2 separate regions of the Homo sapiens genome follow, and region 2 is linked to region 1. The links come from fine-mapping of genetic effects on gene expression. A gene starts in region 1. The other region holds a variant in brackets. All regions are shown on one strand. Distances are from middle to middle.

Evidence for each region.
Region 2: its variant is fine-mapped to the expression of SCP2 in whole blood (TOPMed, PIP above 0.99).

Annotation. Positions count from the first base shown.
Region 1 is chr1:52,920,943-52,930,423 of GRCh38, forward strand. It overlaps SCP2 (sterol carrier protein 2), which reads left to right and starts at 6,334. Exons shown (of 16, transcript NM_002979.5): 1 at 6,334-6,523. The coding sequence starts at 6,455. It overlaps ECHDC2 (enoyl-CoA hydratase domain containing 2), which reads right to left and starts at 798. Exons shown (of 10, transcript NM_001198961.2): 1 at 611-798. The coding sequence starts at 731. It also overlaps the pseudogene LOC112268226 and the pseudogene LOC100652967. RefSeq lists enhancers at 501-1,183, 6,429-6,944, 6,597-6,656, 6,667-6,756 and silencers at 518-696, 545-774, 6,097-6,376.
Region 2 is chr1:53,023,084-53,031,083 of GRCh38, forward strand. SCP2 (sterol carrier protein 2) reads left to right here. Exons shown (of 16, transcript NM_002979.5): 13 at 4,886-4,988. Among named protein-coding and RNA genes, the nearest start is that of PODN, 35 kb to the right of the region's middle. The variant C/T (reference allele first, on the strand shown) is at 4,641.

The sequences.
Region 1 (9,481 bases):
AAACGCAACACGCGATCAGAGGCGTTTTCTGCCAGTGACCCGCGAACTTTGCCCCCCACCCCTCGTCCCCGCTCCATACTATCCTTGATCTTGGCCAAAAGGCGGAGAAACAGCGAACTTTTCCCTGGAGCCAGAAGGACGCAAAGGTTCGCTAGCGGCCCAGGGCGGGCGCGCGGCTGGAGAGGCACCCTCCTCACTCTGCCCGCTGCCGCACTGGGCACTGGGACTGGCTCCGCTGCCTCCGCCCCCGAACCGGGCCAGGACCCTTGGCGGGGGAGGGGAACGCGCACTTAAACGCTCCTGGCCTGGGGGCCGCGGGGCCCAGTCCTACCCGTGCGGACCCCGCTCCCCCTTCCACACAGTCGGAAGACCCCAAAGGGCCTTTGAAGAGACCGAGGTTGCCAGAGGCCCCCCGCCCCCAGCTAGAGTCTGGAGCCACTAAGGCGGCCGCCCACCTCTCAGGCCTGGAGCGGTTTGGGGCGCCTAGAACTGGGAGGGAGGGACTGGGGATCGAATCCTTCAACGCACTGAGCGGCCCACCTGCCGGTCCCCCGCTGCCTCCGGCCTAGTCCCAGTCGCGTCATGCGCCGCCCCGGAACTGCACATTTACCTTGGTCCGGACCCGCCAGGGCGCGCACTTGGATCTCTGAGCCCCCGGCCGCCCCGTCGGAAGCGCAGCCGCGGGCCCGAAGGGGCCTCCAGGGGCGCAGGAGGCACAGAACGCGCAGCATCGGGGCGCAGGCTGGGAGTGAAGGTGCTTCTCCGGCCCTGCACCGTCTCGGCTCCCGCTGAGAGCTCGCAGTTCCGGCGTCGGGCGAAGCCTTCGCCAATTGCTCCACCTATGGGCCAAGCGTCTGTTGCCTCCTTCCGCACCTCCCGGGGACAGGGAGACTTGAGCGGAGGAGGTCGGGGGAAGCCCAGCTCCTCTGTGTGATTTGGTGTAACTCTGTCAACCTCCCAGCGTCAGTGTTTTAATCCTGTAAAATGGGGATAATAGTGACTACCCCGTGGTGGTGTGAAGATTAAATGGGGTGTGTGAACCTTGCTTGCACATATGCTCAATTTCATTTTTTAAATGAAATGACATTTAATGAGTCCCTTGAGCGTGTCTACACTTGCGAACCTCACTGCTTCACCTCCCATTTGCGCCTCACTTTTTTTTTTTTTTTTTTTTTTTGAGACGGAGTCTCGCTGTGTCGCCCAGGTTGGAGTGCTGTGCCTTGATCTTGGCTCACTGTAACCTCCGCCTCCGGGTTCAAGCGATTCTCCTGCCTCAACCTCCCAAGTAGCTGGGATTACAGGGACGCGCCACCACGCCCAACTAATTTTTTTTGTATTTTTAGTAGAGGCAGGGTTTCACCATGACGAAACCCTGTCTCTGTTAAACATTCAAAAAAATTAGCTGGGCGTGGTGGCGGGCGCCTGTAATCCCAGCTACTTGGGAGGCTGAGGCAGGAGAATCACTTGAACTCGGAAGGCACAGGTTCAGTGAGCTGAGATCGCGCCACTGCACTCCAGGCTGGGCAATGAGCGAAACTGCGTCCCAAAAAAAAAAATTATTCTCTTAAACACAGTATATACAAAGCACTCTCACATTGCTGATGTGAATGTCTTTAAATGAAAAGCAACTGGTAATTTATATCAAAATTATAAATGCACAAGCTCATTGCCCCAGAAATTCCAATTTTAGAAATTTAACCTACAGATAAATCCACACAGCTGTGAAATGACACGTGTTCATGGCTGTACATTGCAGCATTGTTTATAATAGCAAAAGACTGGAAGCACATGGTGCTGTCATGTGCTTCTGGTGAGGCCTCAGGAAGCTTACAATCATGGCTGAAGGTGACAGGGATCCAGCATGTCACATGGCGAGAATAGGAACAAGAAAATTAGGTGGGGAGGTCCCAGTTTATCGCCAAGGGGATGGTGCTAAACCATTCACAAGGGATCTGTCCCCATGATCCAGTCACCTCCCAACAGGGCCCACCTCCAACATTGGGAATCATATTTCAACGTGAGATTTGGAGGGATCCAACACCCAAACTATATCACAGTCTCAATATCCATCAATAGAGGGTTGGTTAAATAAATTATGGGGCTGTGTGTGGTGGCTCACCCTATTATTCCAACACTTTGGAAGGCCAAGGCAGGTAGGTCCCTGGAAGCCAGGAGTTTGAAACCAGCCTGGGAAATATAGCAAGCCCCTATCTCTACTTAAAAAAAAAAAAAAGGTACATCAATAATCTGAATACTATGCAGCTATAACAAAACACAGGAAACTGTTTATGCATTGATATGAAACAATCTTCAAAATCTATTGGTATATGAAACAAGTCAAAATGCAGAATAGTGTGTAAAGAAAGCTAAAATTTGGCCGGGTCTGGTGGCTCATGCTCATGAACCTAGCACTTTGGGAGGCCGAGACAGGAGGATTGCTTGAGGCCAGGAGTTCAAGACCAACCTAGCCAACATAGCAAAACCCCACCTCTATTGAAAGAAATAATAAAGAAAACAAAAATTTGTGTTAACAAGGGGGATAAGAGTATGCATGTGTATATTTGATTGTATTTACATAAAACATCTTTGGAAGGATAGGGAAGAAGAACCGAGAGGCTGGGAATAAGGGTAAGAGAGACAAGTTTTACGGTTTGACCTGTTATACGTTTTTGGACACAGGATGTTGTTGTTGCCCAGATTGGAGTGCAGTGGCAGTATCTTGGCTCACTGCAGCTTCTGCCTCCCGGGCTCAGGTGATCCTTCCACCTCACCCTCCTGAGTAGCTGGGACCACAGGTACATGCCACAACATTGGCTAATTTTTGTATTTCTTGTAGAGACGGGGTTTTGCCATGTTGCCAAGGTTGGTCTCGAACTCCTGAGCTCAGGCGATTTGTCCACCTTGGCCTTCCAAAGTGCTGGGATTACAGGTGTGAACCACCATGCCTGGCCCCTTTTATACTTTTTGAATCTTGATTTTTGTTTTAAGTATAACTTACTCAAAATAAATAATGAAAATGAAAACAAAGCACAATAACAAAAATTAAAAACATGCCTTAGCAAAAATAAAACTAATATATACACAAAATCAAAACATACAAACTAGCCAGGCCCGGTGGCTCATGCCTGTAATCCCAGCACTTTAGGAGGCTGAGGTGGGTGGGTCACCTGAGGTCAGGAGTTCAAGACCAGCCTGGCCAACATGGTGAAACCCTGTCTCTACTAAAAATACAAAAATTAGCCAGGCGTGGTTGTGGGCAGCTGTAATCCCAGCTACTCAGGAGGCTGAGGTGCAAGAATCGCTTGAACCCAGGAGGTGGAGGTTGTAGTGAGCTGAGATCACACCACTGCACTCCAACCTGGGCAACAGAGTGAGATTCTGTCTTAAAAAAAAAAAAGAAGCAAAAACAAAACATACAAACTATAATTGGGTATAAGATTAAAAGAAAAACCTTCCCTCCTCCATATTCCATGCATTTATTGTATTCTATTTTATTGAGACAGGGTCTCACTCTGTTGCCCACATTGGAGTACAGTGGTGCAGTCAGTTCACTACAACCTCAGACTCCTGGGCTCAGGGGATCCTCCCGTCTCAGCCTTCCGAGTAGCTGGGACTACAGGAGTGGGCCACCACACTTGGCTCATTGTTAAATTTTTTGTAGAGACAGAGGTCTCCCTATGTTGCCAGGCTGGTCTCAAACACCTGGCCTCAAGTGATCCTCCCACCTCAGCCTCCCAAAGTGCTGGGATTACAGGTGTGAGCCCCCATGCCTGGCATCCACCCATTTAAAAAGATTTTTCTTGTTTTTTCTTCTTTTTTTTTAGAGATAGGGAGCTATGTTGCCCAGGTTGGTCTTGAATTCTTGGGCTCAATCAATCCTCCCATTTTGGCCTCCCAAAGTGCTGGGATTACAGGCATGAGCCACTGTGCCTCGCTGCTTTTTGTCTTTTTGTATTAACAGAAAAGGTCTCACTATGCTGTCCAGGCTGGAGTGCAGTGGCTATTCACAGGCATAATCGTAGCTCACTGCAGCCTTGAACTCCTGGACTCAAGCAGCCTTTCTGCCTCAGCTCCTCAAGTAGATGGGATTACAGTCTCGTACCACCACACCCAGCTTAAAATGATATTTATTGTATTTTATCTGGCATTTCTGGGTGTTTTTTTTTGGTATACTTATTCATGCCACAAAGTAAGTGGTACTTATATAAGTGTACAGTGATTTTCCAGGTTCCTTTCTAACATAGCTTGCTTAAATTCACAGGTCGACTAATGTTTCATTTCATGTGCATGCTAAGTGAAGCTGGTTAGTGATGACCATAAGCAGGTGGAGAAGCTTTCAATATTTTACTTATTTTATCAGTACTCCTGATTTTATAAATGATGAGGCTCATTAACCCCATTCCTACTCAAATCTCCTGATAAACTTGGTTATAATAGGGCTTCATGGGGATCCAAACATTTTTAATAATGTTTTGAAGCATCTTGGTGTGGGACAAACAGCTCAGGCTACCCCAGAGCCCCACATCCAATGACTTAGAAAAGTCTGTGTTTTATAGTGGGAAAAGTTTGGATTATTTAGTCCTTCACATTGGAAAGGGAAGTGTTTTTTCTCAGTCTTTTCGGTATTAACAAATACCTTTTATATTACTATCTATCCCCTCTGCCCTCTATGGACTCTTATTTTGAAAGCAATATCCAGTGGACAGCCAGGATTTGTTACATAACAATTAATCTTGACCTTAGGACTTGTTGTTCTATTAGGTTGGTAACTTTGTCTGATCCACCAATCATATTGCTGTCTTGTCAGTCCATCAGTTTCAAGAAACAACTGTACATGTCAGTGCCCTGATTTGTGTTTGTTTTTCTTTTTTTTTTTTTTTTGTTTCGTTTTGGTTTTTTAGAGACGTGGTCTTGGTATGTTGCCCAGGCTGGAGTGCAGTGGCTATTCAGAGGTGTAATCATAGCACATTTGTAGCCTTGAATTCCCAGGCTCAAGTGATCTTTCTGCCGAAGCCTCCTGAGCAGATGGGAGGCGTGCATCACTGAGCGCAGCAATTTTACTAAGTTGGTCTAGTCCTAGCTCAGTAGTTCTTTACTTAGCACAGAGGGGGCTTCTTAGAATCTCCTAAACTTGATCTTAGCCAAATGGCCAAGAAGCAATCCTTAGAATCTTCTAGGAGAGCCTTTCTAAATGCTGATACTGCAAACCGAAAAGTATATGAAACGGATCTCAATTAATTTAGAAGTTAATTTTGCCAAGTTTAAGGACGTGCATCATCTTTGGAGACAGGTCCGTGCCTTTCTCCAAAGATGATTTTGAGGGCTTCAGTTTTTATAGGGGAAGGGGCAGATATTGGGGAAAGATGAATAAATTTTAAAAAGATGTGGGTAGATAAGAGGCAAACGGTTGCATTCTTCTGAGTCTTTGATCAACCTTCACATGTGAGGGGGGTAGAGAAATAGTCACTTATGCATTCATCTAGCTCAATGAATCTGCATTTTTACATAAGATAAAATAAACCGGGGAGCCGGGCGCGGTGGCTCACGCCTGTAATCCCAGCACTTTGGGAGGCCAAGGTGGGTAGATCACCTAAGGTCAGGAGTTCCAGACCAGCCTGGCCAACATGGCGAAACCCCATCTCTACTAAAAATACAAAAATTAGCGGGGCGTGGTGGCGCGCGCCTGTAATCCCAGATACTCGGGAGGCTGAGGCAGGAGGATTGCTTGAACCTGGGAGGCGGAGGCTGCAGTGAGCCGAGTTCGCGGCATTGCACTCCAGCCTGGGCGACAGAGCGAGACTCCGGTCTCCAATAAACATGGAAGGCTGTTTCTCCCCGGTTTGCTGGAATAAAGTCTCTGTCTTCCAAATTCCTTTTCGGAGAACTTTTGTTCACAAGATTAAAAAGGTCACGCAGCTGGTGACGGAGCCTGGGTTTTTTGATTTAGACATTGTATCCATGTGTGAGATCCTGCCCATCCCCGCTTTCTTGGTGTCCTGTGAGTTTAAATTCATGAATTCACTCTCAACTGCCACCGCTAACAGGACACAGGCCAATTCCAACACGAACCCCAACGGCTCTCCTCAGGGTCACCTTTCATGAGTCCGCTTTCCGGCCAACCCCTCCTCTCAGTCTTAGGCCCCACTGCAAGCCTACTCCCGCTCACCGTACAGAACCTAAGCACAGGATCAGAGATGGGGACAGGTTGACTCAGTCCCATGCCCAAGTCCGCAAATTAGGGATTCGGCTGCCTAAGGGCTAGAGAACGCTCCCCGCCCCACAGGACGCGCCCCACCCCGCCCCCTCCTCCTGCCCCTACGCACGCGCACTCTCACGCGCCTGTGTTGCCGCCCGCGGCCCTGGCTTCGGGCTTCAGGGAGCTCTGGTGCAGTCTCCGCCTGTCAGTGCCGGCAGTCGTCCGCGGCGCCCGCCCCGGTCCCGCACTGGTGCAGCCATGTCCTCTTCCCCGTGGGAGCCTGCGACCCTGCGCCGGGTGTTCGTGGTGGGGGTTGGCATGACCAAGGTAAACCGAGCAGCGGCCCTGCTGGCCCTCTGAGGCTCGGGGGCGGTCGGTGCCTGGGTTTCTCTGTCCCTCCGGTCTCCTAGCTTCGACTGCTCCGCGCGTGGGTCATCGGCGTGGCGACTTGGTGGCTTGTACTCTGCGGAATCTCTGGGGTCATAGCGTCTCGGGCTGGTTCCTGCGGCCTTCTGCTTCCTCCTTCCCTTTTCTTCTGGTCAGAGTTCATGAAGCAGCCCCGAGATAATCCAAGGATCTCACCTCTTTAGATTCTGAGCGGAGTCCCGAGGTGTGTGGGCTGGCTTGCCCCGGAGGGAGGCAGGTCGCGAATGCCGCCTGCTCGGCCCTCCCAGGAACAGCCCCCACAGGAGCCCTCACAGAGACAGCTCCAGATGTGGATGGCGAGGAGAAACGCTCCTGATGCCCAGCGCCTCGGCCCGAGTGGCAGATTCCGGCCTCCCTCTGTCCCTCCAGTGACTGCTTGGGACCCGGACGCCGCAGGCTCCCACGGCCGTTTTCCCCTCATCGCCCGCATGCTCCTTAATGCCAAACTGCCTTTCGTTTCTCCCCGGACGCAGTTGTCTGATGCCTCTGTTGCTTTGCTTCTGTTCTGTTTGTACCGTGTATCTTCACCTGTTAACTTTTGTGCATCCTGAAAGGATCCGTTCAGATCGGATCTTCTCCAGGACGCCTCGGATCCTCCTGACTTTCCCCTAGAGCCTTGCACTGTGCTTACCTCTGTCCTGCACTTACTGTGCTCGGCAGTACCGGGCAGTACTAAAGCTCATAGGCGTCTGCGCGCCCTCTTAGCATGGCAGCTCCTCTAGACTGGGTACCTGGCTTATTCACTGCTGTGCCCCTCGCCCTGAACGTTCCTGATGCTTGAAGACCCTCAGTGAATGTTAGTTGAACAATACTAAATGGATATGCTTTGTGAAAGAGTTCCTAGGGAGAGTTCTATTTCTGAGAAAACAGCCCTAAAATGTTTATTATTTTACCAGTGGGCTGAGCGTACCTAATTCAGTCCAACATGTAAATAGGCCGGGGCCGGTGGCTCACGCCTGTAATCCCAGCACTTTGGGAGGCCAAGGCGGGTGGATCACCTGAGGTCAAGAGTTCGAGACCAGCCTGGCCAACATGGTGAAACCCCGTCTCTACTAAAAATACGAAAATTAGTCGGGCATGGTAGCACACGCCAGCTACTCGGGAGGCTGAGGTGGGAGGATTGCTTGAGCCTGGGAGATGGAGGTTGCAGTGAGCTGAGATCACGCAACTGCACCCCCAGCCTGGGCCATAGAGTCAGTCCTTGTCTCAACAAAAACAAAAAATATCCATGGAAATGGAAAAGTGGACCAATACCTTATGAAGCGGAAGGACATCATCCTAGTGTTTCACAGAAGGGGAGGCTTCTAACACAGGTGGACAGTAGGATCTTTCGAAGTAAGGTATTAATGCAGTCAAACCTTCCTCTGGCTGCTGAATGCCTGATTATATGTGCTGTATGGAAAAGCACAGTTGTCTAAACCTTTGGGAAATAGATGTATTCCTTTTTCCTCAAGTTGGGAGGTAGAGGTCGGGGAGGTGTTACAGTCCAGAGGAAAGTGGTGAGGAGTTTGGGTAGTGCCATTAATGATGTGCCTATCTGGCCAGTGTACTTTGCTATAGGTCTGGTCTTCTGCACCTTGGGACAGAGTTTGATGGAGGAGGGAGAAATATTGACTAGACAACACTGTAACACTTTTTTTTTTTTTTTTGGAAGACGGAGTTTTGCTCTGTCAACCAGATGGGAAGGCAGTGGTGCAATCATAGCTCACTGCAGCCTTGAACTCCTGGACTCTAGCGATCCTACCGAGTAGCTAGGACTACAGGCATTCTACCATACCTGGCTAATTAAAAAAAAATTTTTTTTGTAGAGACAGGGTCTCACTACTTACTACTAGATGGGTCTCATTTCTACCATATATTACTGTTATAATTTATCATAATACTTTATTTTTATTTTTTGAGACAGAGTCTCACTCTGTCCCCCAGTCTGGAGTGCAGTGGGGCGATCTCAGCTCACTGCAACCTCTGCCTCCCAGGTTCAAGTGATTCTTCTGCTCAGCCTCCCAAGTAGGTGGGATTACAGGTGTGTGCCACCATGCCCAGCTACTTTTTGTATTTTTATTTATTTTATTTTTTGACACAGATTCTTGCTCTGTCGCCCAGGCTGGAATGCAGTGGCGCGATCTTGGCTCACTGCAAGCTCCGCCTCCTGGATTCACGCCATTCTCCTGCCTCAGCCTCCCGAGTAGCTGGGACTACAGGTGCCCACCACCACGTCCGGCTAATTTTTTGTATTTTTTAGTAGAGATGGGGTTTCACCGTGTTAGCCAGGATGGTCTTAACCTCCAGATCTCGTGATCCACCCGCCTCGGACTCCCAAAGTGCTGGGATTACAGGCGTGAGCCACCGCACCTGGCCGTCAACAGGTTTTAACACAACTAAGTCACAGCTGCCGTCTGGCTGACAGCAAGCCTCTTCACTTATGCTGCCTATCTCCTGATATACCCTCTTTTCATCTACTTAAATTCTACTTATCTTTCAAGAACTAGGCTAAGTCCCATACCTTCTTAAAACTTCCTCAGACTACTCTAAGTTACACTGGTCACCTTTTTTGAAATTCTGGTGACCTTATAGTCAGAACATGTAATTTAGCACTTCAGTTTTCTAGTACTTTTATGTATGGTAATTTCATGAAATACATCTTACATCACAATCCAGTACACACATACAAAACTTATTTGTAACAACTGAAACAATTTGTTAAAGCAACGCTTATTACATGTGATGAACTCTTGGTATCCCTAAAGTATATCTTAAAAAAAAAAAAAATTGCTGCTTGGCTGGATGTGGTAGCTCATGCCTGAAATCTCAGTACTTTAGGAGGCTGAGGTGGGTGTATCTCTTGAGCCCAGGGTTTGA
Region 2 (8,000 bases), 100 kb after region 1:
TATATTCAGTTTTCTTAGAGCAGGGCACATATATAAATTTTAAGGAATGAGGGGTTTTCAGAAAACATTGATAAAACTTTACATATTAACTTTTAATCTGGATGAAAAGTTGGTTCATCACTAACTTCATGAGCTTTTCAAAACAAGCAAGATAAAAGACACACCTGTGACCTTTGGGAACATGCAAGATGTGGCAAGTTTGGAAAAGGGCACAATGATGATTAAAAGTAACTGAAAAATTGGACCAATGAAATGAAATTGGCTTGTGGAGAACTAGCTGTGGCTACTTGATTTTAGGTCACATATTCAGACTTTTGACCAAGACGATATACTGTACCATAGATAATTCTGCTCTGAATGGAACAGGAAGGAATTAGGAGTTAGGCAAGGGAGAATTCAGGGTAACTTCAGTTCCATTCAGTCACTATTCACTAAATGCTTATGATTTGCTGGGAACTGGCAATACAGAGATTTTTTTTAAAGAAAAGGTATGGTATCTGCTCTTAAGCCGTTGACATTTAGTAGGGTTTCACAGAAAAGTAGTTTCCTGAAAGGGCTGGGTCTCGAAGGGAGAAATGGAGTTTGCTAAGATGGAGGTATTCTGGACCCAGGGAGCAGCAGTGGCAAAGGCATAGAAGTGTGAGGTGGCATTCTGTGCAACGAGGACTGCACAGAGTCTGCTTGCTGGAGATGAGGTTCCATTCCCTGTTCATATATTAATATGATTCCTCTAGTAGGCTCTCTTTTCAATTTAGACTCTCCACACCCTTCCTTTCACCCTCACTCTCTGCTGATTACTTTGCCTTATACTTTGTTGAGAAATAGAAGCCATTAAACCCAAACTTCCTCAACTTCCATCCAAGACCTACAGACCCACTACACGAGAATTACACCCATCTGATCCTCTTTCTTCGCTTGAGTCTCCTCGTCCTGTCACAGGCCACAAGATTTTTCTCCTTCCATCTCCTTTTTCCAGGTTCCTTACCATCATCAGGCATACCTGTTCTGATTTGTTCATCTTAAAATGAAACCCAGCCTTTTTGAAAATCCTGACATGCTGCAAGATGGATGATCCTTGAGAACATTATGCCAAGTGATATGTCAGTCACAAAAAGACAAATACTATATGATTCCACTTAGAATCATAGTACCTAGAGGTACCTAGAGTATTCAAAATTATAGAGACAGAAAGTAGAATGGTGGTTGCCAGGGGTTGGAAGCAGGGGGGAGTGAGGAGTTACTCTTTAATGGGTAGAGTTTCAGTTTTGCAAGATGAAAAGAGTTATGGAGATGAAAGGTGATGATGGTTGCACAACATTATGACTGTATTTAATACTACTAAACTGAACACTTAAATATGGTTAGGATGGTAAATTTTATGTGTATTTTAACATAATAAAAAATTGGAAAATAAAATATTTTTTAAAAGTTATAGGACTCTCATATGCCCACATCCAGAAGGAAATGCTACATTTCTTTCTTTCTTTTTTTTTCTTTTTTTTTTTGAGATGGAGTCTTGCTCTGTTGCCCAGGCTGGAGTGCAGTGGCATGATCTCTGCTCACTGCAACCTTTGTCTCCTGGGTTCAAGCGAATTCTCCTGCCTCAGACTCCCGAGTAGCTGAGTTTACAGGCGCACACCACAATGCCCGGCTAATTTTTGTATTTTTAGTAGAGACGGGGTTTCACTATGTTGGCCAGGCTGGTCTCGAACTCCTGACCTCAGGTGATCCACCTGCCTCGGCGTCCCAAAGTGCTGGGATTACAGGTGTGAGCTACCACGCCTGCCCAGAAATGCTACATTTCTTTAAGAGATTAGTGAAAATAAAGATGTCATCTTTATCCCCCCCACCAAAAAAATCCCACAACTCTTCCTTGATACCACCACATTCCTCTCCAGAGACCACCTCATTTTACTGTTCCACTAAGACTAATGTCTCAAAAGAGCCACGCTGTGTCTATTTCCCTCTTCTATTCACTCTTCAATTCACTATAATCTGACTTCCACCCTCCACTGAAAACTGCTTTTGTCAAGGTCAGGTCATCTGTACTCTCCATGTGCACATCTAGTGGATACTTGACCTTGTGGCAGCATTTGACAGTTTGCCCCTCCCTCCTGGAATCTTGCTCCCGGCTCCTATGACACCATGCTGGTTTTCCTCTTGCATCACTGGCTGCTGCTTTCCCTTCTGTCCCTGACTCTGAGTAATGGAGGTCTAAAGGGCATTGTGCTGGACTCTCTTGTTTCTCTATAATTCTGTTACAGTCCCTGCCCAGGGATTTAAATGCTTTCACTATGCTGATGATTTCTCCATTTTATCTCTAGCTGGCCCTCTCCACTGAGCTCCAGACTCTCATATCCATGGCTTTCTTGTTTTATAAAATAGTATACTTACTGTGCCTTAAACAGAACTTGGATCCCCTCTATTCCCACTACATTCCTCCTTGTCCTCGTAATGGCCTCTCCATCACCCAGTTATTCAGGCCAAATGCCTGGATAATCCTTGCCCTTTCCTCTTTGTATCTCCCTCACCCCCACAGCAAGGCTTGTGGATTCTATTTCTATTTTGAATCTATTCCCACTCTCTATCTACTGGCAGACTGCCTCTGTAGTCCAGGCCACCATCACCTCCTATCTGGATTATTCCAACAGCCTCCTAACTAGTGCCCACTCCTCTTGCTCCTCTCTCCATCGTCATTCGTTCAGCACACTGTTGTAAGAATAATCACAAATCAAACAATTTCACTTCCATGTTATCATTTCTATGGATTTCCAAATTCCCTACTTTGGCCTGCCTGCATCATCATTTGGCCTGCCTAGTTCTCCAATTTCATTTCATGTCACTCTCCCCACACCTACTGTATTATAGAGACTCTGGTCTTATTTGACTTTCTTTTAACATACTCCTTTCTCCCTCAGGATCTTTGCAGTTTCCTCTTTGAATGGCTAGCTCCTTTTCTTCCTTTAATAAGGTCTTAGAGGTCATTCCTTGACTGTCCTTCCTAAAGTAGGTTCCTTTTTTTTAAATTTAAAATTATTTTTTATTGATGCATAACTGATGTACATAGTCTCAGGGTACAAGTACTAATTTAATACATTCATGTAATTTGTGAAAATCAAATCAGTATACTTGGGATATCCATCACCTTAAATATTTGTCTTTTCTTTATTCTAGGAACATTTGAATTATTCTCTTTTGATTATTCTCTTTTTGCTATTTAGAAATGTAAATGTATAGTAAACTATAGTCACCCTACTCCTGTTTCAAAGTACTTGGTACAGTTTGCAGTTATTTTGTGTTTACTTCTTTTTCTCCTCCACTGGAAGAATATAAACTAAGTGAGTGCAAGGACTGGGTCTGATCTGTTCACTATCATATCCCCAGTGTTTTGAAATGTCTTGCTTGGCATGTAGCAAGAAGTCATTAAATATTTATGAAACGAGGCCAGGCACAGTGGCTCACATCTGTAATCTCAGCACCTTGGGAGGCCAATGTGGGAGGATCGATTGAGCCCAGGAGTTTGAGACCAGCCTGGGCAACATAACAAGGCCCCTGTCTCTACAAAAAATTTGAAAAATTAGCTGGGCATGGTGGCATGCGCCTATAGTCCCAGCTTACTTGGGAGGCTGAGGCAAGATTGCCTGAGACCAGGAGTTCGAGGTTACAGTAAGCTGTGACAGGACCACTGCACCCCAGCCTGGGCGACAGAGTCCCTGTGGGAAAGAGAGAGAGAAAAAGTATGAAATAATAGAAGGAAAAGGGAAAGAGGAAGGAGAAATGGATTTGAGGACTGCAGGGAGACATACATGAGAGGAGAGGGGTAGAAAAAGACAGATGCTTATTGAACAACTGCTGCACTTTTTTTTTTTTTTTTTGACAGGTTCTCACTCTGTCACCCAGGATGGGGTGCAGTGGTGTGATCATAGCTCACTGCAGCCTCTATCTCCCAGGCTCAGGTGATCCTTCCACTTTAGCCTCCTGAGTAGCTAGGACTACAGACACATGCCACCATAATAGGTTAATAAATAACTTATTTATTTAGAAATGGTCTGGTTCCATCACCCAGGCTCAAGCAATCCTTCCATCTCAGCCTCCTGAGTAGCTGGGACTACAGGCACGCACCACCACACCAGGCCAATTTTTGTGTTTTTTATAGAGACGGGGTTTCAACATGTTGCCCAGGCTGGTCTCGAACTCCTGAGCTCAAGCGATCTGTCCGCCTTGGCCTCCCAAAGTGTAGGATTACAGGTGTGAGCCACTGTGCCTGGCTAACTATATTATTTATTTTTTTGTTTCTAAATTGTCTCCTCCACTAGGATGTAAGATTCATGAGGGTAGCTTCTTTGGTTTACTGTATTTTCAAGAAAAACTTCTAGCTCCTAATGAGCTGATTATGTGTTGAAAAAATGAGAAGAAGAGCTTAATTGTTTCTTTGTTTATGACGGAGTTTCGCTCTTGTTGCCCAGCATGGAGTGCAATGGTGCCATCTCGGCTCACTGCAACCTCCGCCTCCTAGGTTCAAGCGATTCTCCTACCTCAGCCTCCTGAGTTGCTGGGATTACAGGCATGCGCCATCATGCCCAGCTAATTTTTGTATTTTTAGTAGATACGGGGTTTCTCCATGGTGGCCAGGCTGGTCT[C/T]GAACTCCCGACTACAGGTGATCCACTCGCCTCGGCCTCCCAAAGTGCAGGGACTATAGGCATTGAGCCATCGCGCCCGGCCAAGCTTAATTATTTTATATGCTTACTAAAGATTTCCTTTGGATAAGATTTGCAACATCTCTGTTCTTAGGGTTTTTGAAAATTTTGAAAATTACTATTTTATAAATGTTGAAAAACCTAGTACCTATGTGACTCCATGAATTGAAACAGTTTCTTTTCCCCAGTTCTTTTAGAACTCATCAAATTGAAGCTGTTCCAACCAGCTCTGCAAGTGATGGATTTAAGGCAAATCTTGTTTTTAAGGAGATTGAGAAGAAACTTGAAGAGGTAAGATTTATGTAAAATATTGCCAGGAAGGACCTTGAGGCTAGAGGAAGCAGACACAGGTTTCAGGTGTTGCCACGAGGTGGTACAATTGAAAATTTATATCATGTTGTCAAGTATTGAGTGTAGTTAGATTTCTGAGTGTCTATTAAGGCTTCCTTGTAATTCTAAAAGGAATGCATTTCAGAAATGTATGAATCTCCAGATTTGAGCTAAAGAACTATAATAAATACTGTTAAAATTGTCACTCTTTTCTAGGTCCTCTTTGTCAGAGGGTCATTCAGTCATGGGCAAAGTTCAAATATAAAGGGATTCTAATTTATTTTGCTGTAATTTCCTTTGAATTAAAACGGTCTTACTTAAAATCATTTCAAAGAATAATATTTAAAATGAGCCTTTTTTGTATATATATCAAAATTCTTTGTAAAAAGAAATTGTGTTTTGATTTCTTAAAGTAGTTAAAAAATTTTTTTGTTTTAAAAATGATGTTAATTTAAAAAATACTATACAGAAATATATGTTTATGAATAGTATAAATTTTATACTATACTTTTGTTTTAACCTTTTAAACAAAAGTTTAAAATCTCCCCAAATTCTGCCACTCAGAGTTTACTGAAATGTTAACAGTGGTTAACATTCTTTCAGACATCTTTCTCTGTGTATATTAACTTACAGTTTTAACCTAGGGTCAAAAAAACCTATTGTTTTTTGTTTTGTTTTGTTCTGAGACAGTGTCTTGCTCTGTCACCCAGGCTGGAGTGCAGTGGTATGATCTTGGGTCACTGCAACCTTCACCTCCCGGGTTCAAGTGATTCTTGTTCCTCTGCCTCCTGAGTAGCTGGGATTACAGGCACCCACCACCACGCCAGGCTAATTTTTGTATTTTTAGTAGAGACAGGGTTTCACCATGTTGGTCAGGCTGGTCTTGAACTCCTGACCTCAAGTGATCCACCCGCCTTGGCCTCCCAAAGTGCTAGGATTACAGGGGTGAGCCACCGTGCCCACCACAACACCTGTTGTTTTTTATTATACTATATATGCGGATCTATTTTTATATACAATAATTAGTTCTTGATAGGTAATAATCATACTAAGGCAATCTAAAAATAACTCTCCAGAAAGAAAGTTATTCTCTTCACGCAAAATTGATATTTATTTCATTGTTTTAAACTTAGAAGAATCTTGGGATCTCTTTCTGTTTTTTTTTTTTTTTGAAACAGAGTCTCACTTTGTCGCCCAGAATGGAGTGCAGTGGCATGATCACGGCTCACTGCAGCCTTGAGCCCCTGGGCTCAAGTGATCCTTTCACCTTGGCCCCCCAAAGTGTTGGGATTACAGGCGTGAGCCTCTGCCTGGATGTATTTCATTATGGATTTTAGATCTGAGACCGTATAAGGCATGGTTACAGCCATAATCACAATGCAAATTACACATCTATTAAGGTGATCAAAGTGGGCTGGAATAAATAGAATGTTTAAACTGTATTTCACTCACGTTAGAGCCATGGTGTGAAAGGCAAACATTGTGCTTATCTCATAACCCTTATTGTAGGCCAGAGGACTACTTAATATCTGAGATGATTGCACTGTGGATGGGAATACAGGTGATATAACTGATGTGTCTTGTGAAAGAACCCAGTATTCCCAGGACTTTCATTATAATCTACAACCGTCCTGAGGGAGAGCAGGGCCAGGCATTGGCCTAGAAGCTGCAGACCTGTCCTGCAACCATCTTGGGATGCATCCACATGGGGCTACCTGTTTTATAACCTATGTTTTTCTTTTGACATTATGTTCCATGGCCATAAATCTAAATCTTTACCCCCTGTTTTTTTTTTTGAAACAAAGTCTCGCTCTGTCACCCAGGCTGGAGTGCAGTGGCGCGATCTTGGCTCACTGCAACCTCCACCTCCCGGGTTCAAGCGATTCTCGTGCCTCAGCCTCCCGAGTAGCTGGCATTACAGGCACGTGCCACCACACCCAGCTAATTTTTGTATTTTTAGTAGAGATGGGGTTTCACCATATTTGCCAGGGTGGTCTCTTATCTCCTGACCTCGTCATCTTCCCACCTTGGCCTCCCAAAGTGCTGGGATTACAGGCATGAGCCATCGTGCCCGGCCGTTTACCCTCATTTTTAATACATAGTATGTATTCATATGTATTTGTCAAAATTTAAGTAGCTTCCTGTGATGAATATCAGGTTGTATTTAACATTTTCAAGTAAAACAGTGCTGTAATAAATTTCCTGTTGCACTCATATTTAAGTATTTAAGCTATGATCAATTTAATATAAATAAAGGAGGAAAATTGTTGGGTGGTTGGCTACGTGCATTTTGTATGCTGATACATATTGCCAAACTACCCACCAGAAAGAGAGTACTAACTTACAAACATTACCAATTCATGAGAGTGACTATTTTTTCCTTTTAAAACATTTATTTATTTTTATTTTTGTAAAGATGGGGTCTTGCTATGTTGGAGACTAACTATTTTTACTTCACACCTCTGATACTATGTTGGCTGGTTTTTAAAAAAATCTCTGGGCTGGGCACAGTGGCACACCCCTGTAATCCCAGCATTATGGAAGGCTGAGGCGGGTGGATCACTTGATGTCAGGAGTTCAAGACCAACCTGGCCAACATAGCAAAACCCTGTCTCTACTAAAAATATAAAAATTAGCCAGGCATGATGGCGCAGTCCCAGATAGCTGTAGTCCCAGCTACTAGAGAGGCTGAGGCAGGAGAATCGCTTGAACCTGGAAGGCGGAGGTTGCAGTGAGCCAAGATCACGCCACTGTACTCCAGCCTGGGTGACAGAGCGAGACTCCACCTCAAAAAAATTAAAAAAAAAAAAAAAAAAAAAGGCTTTGCCAACCTAGTAGGAAAAAATATCTCATTGTTTCTTGAACTTCTTTCATTACAAGTGTTCCTATAAAATGAAGTTGCACTCTATAAAGTCTCGGCTTAAAAGTTTTGGTTTTTAAAAATGCTGCCAATATATTCCTGCAGAGGAACAC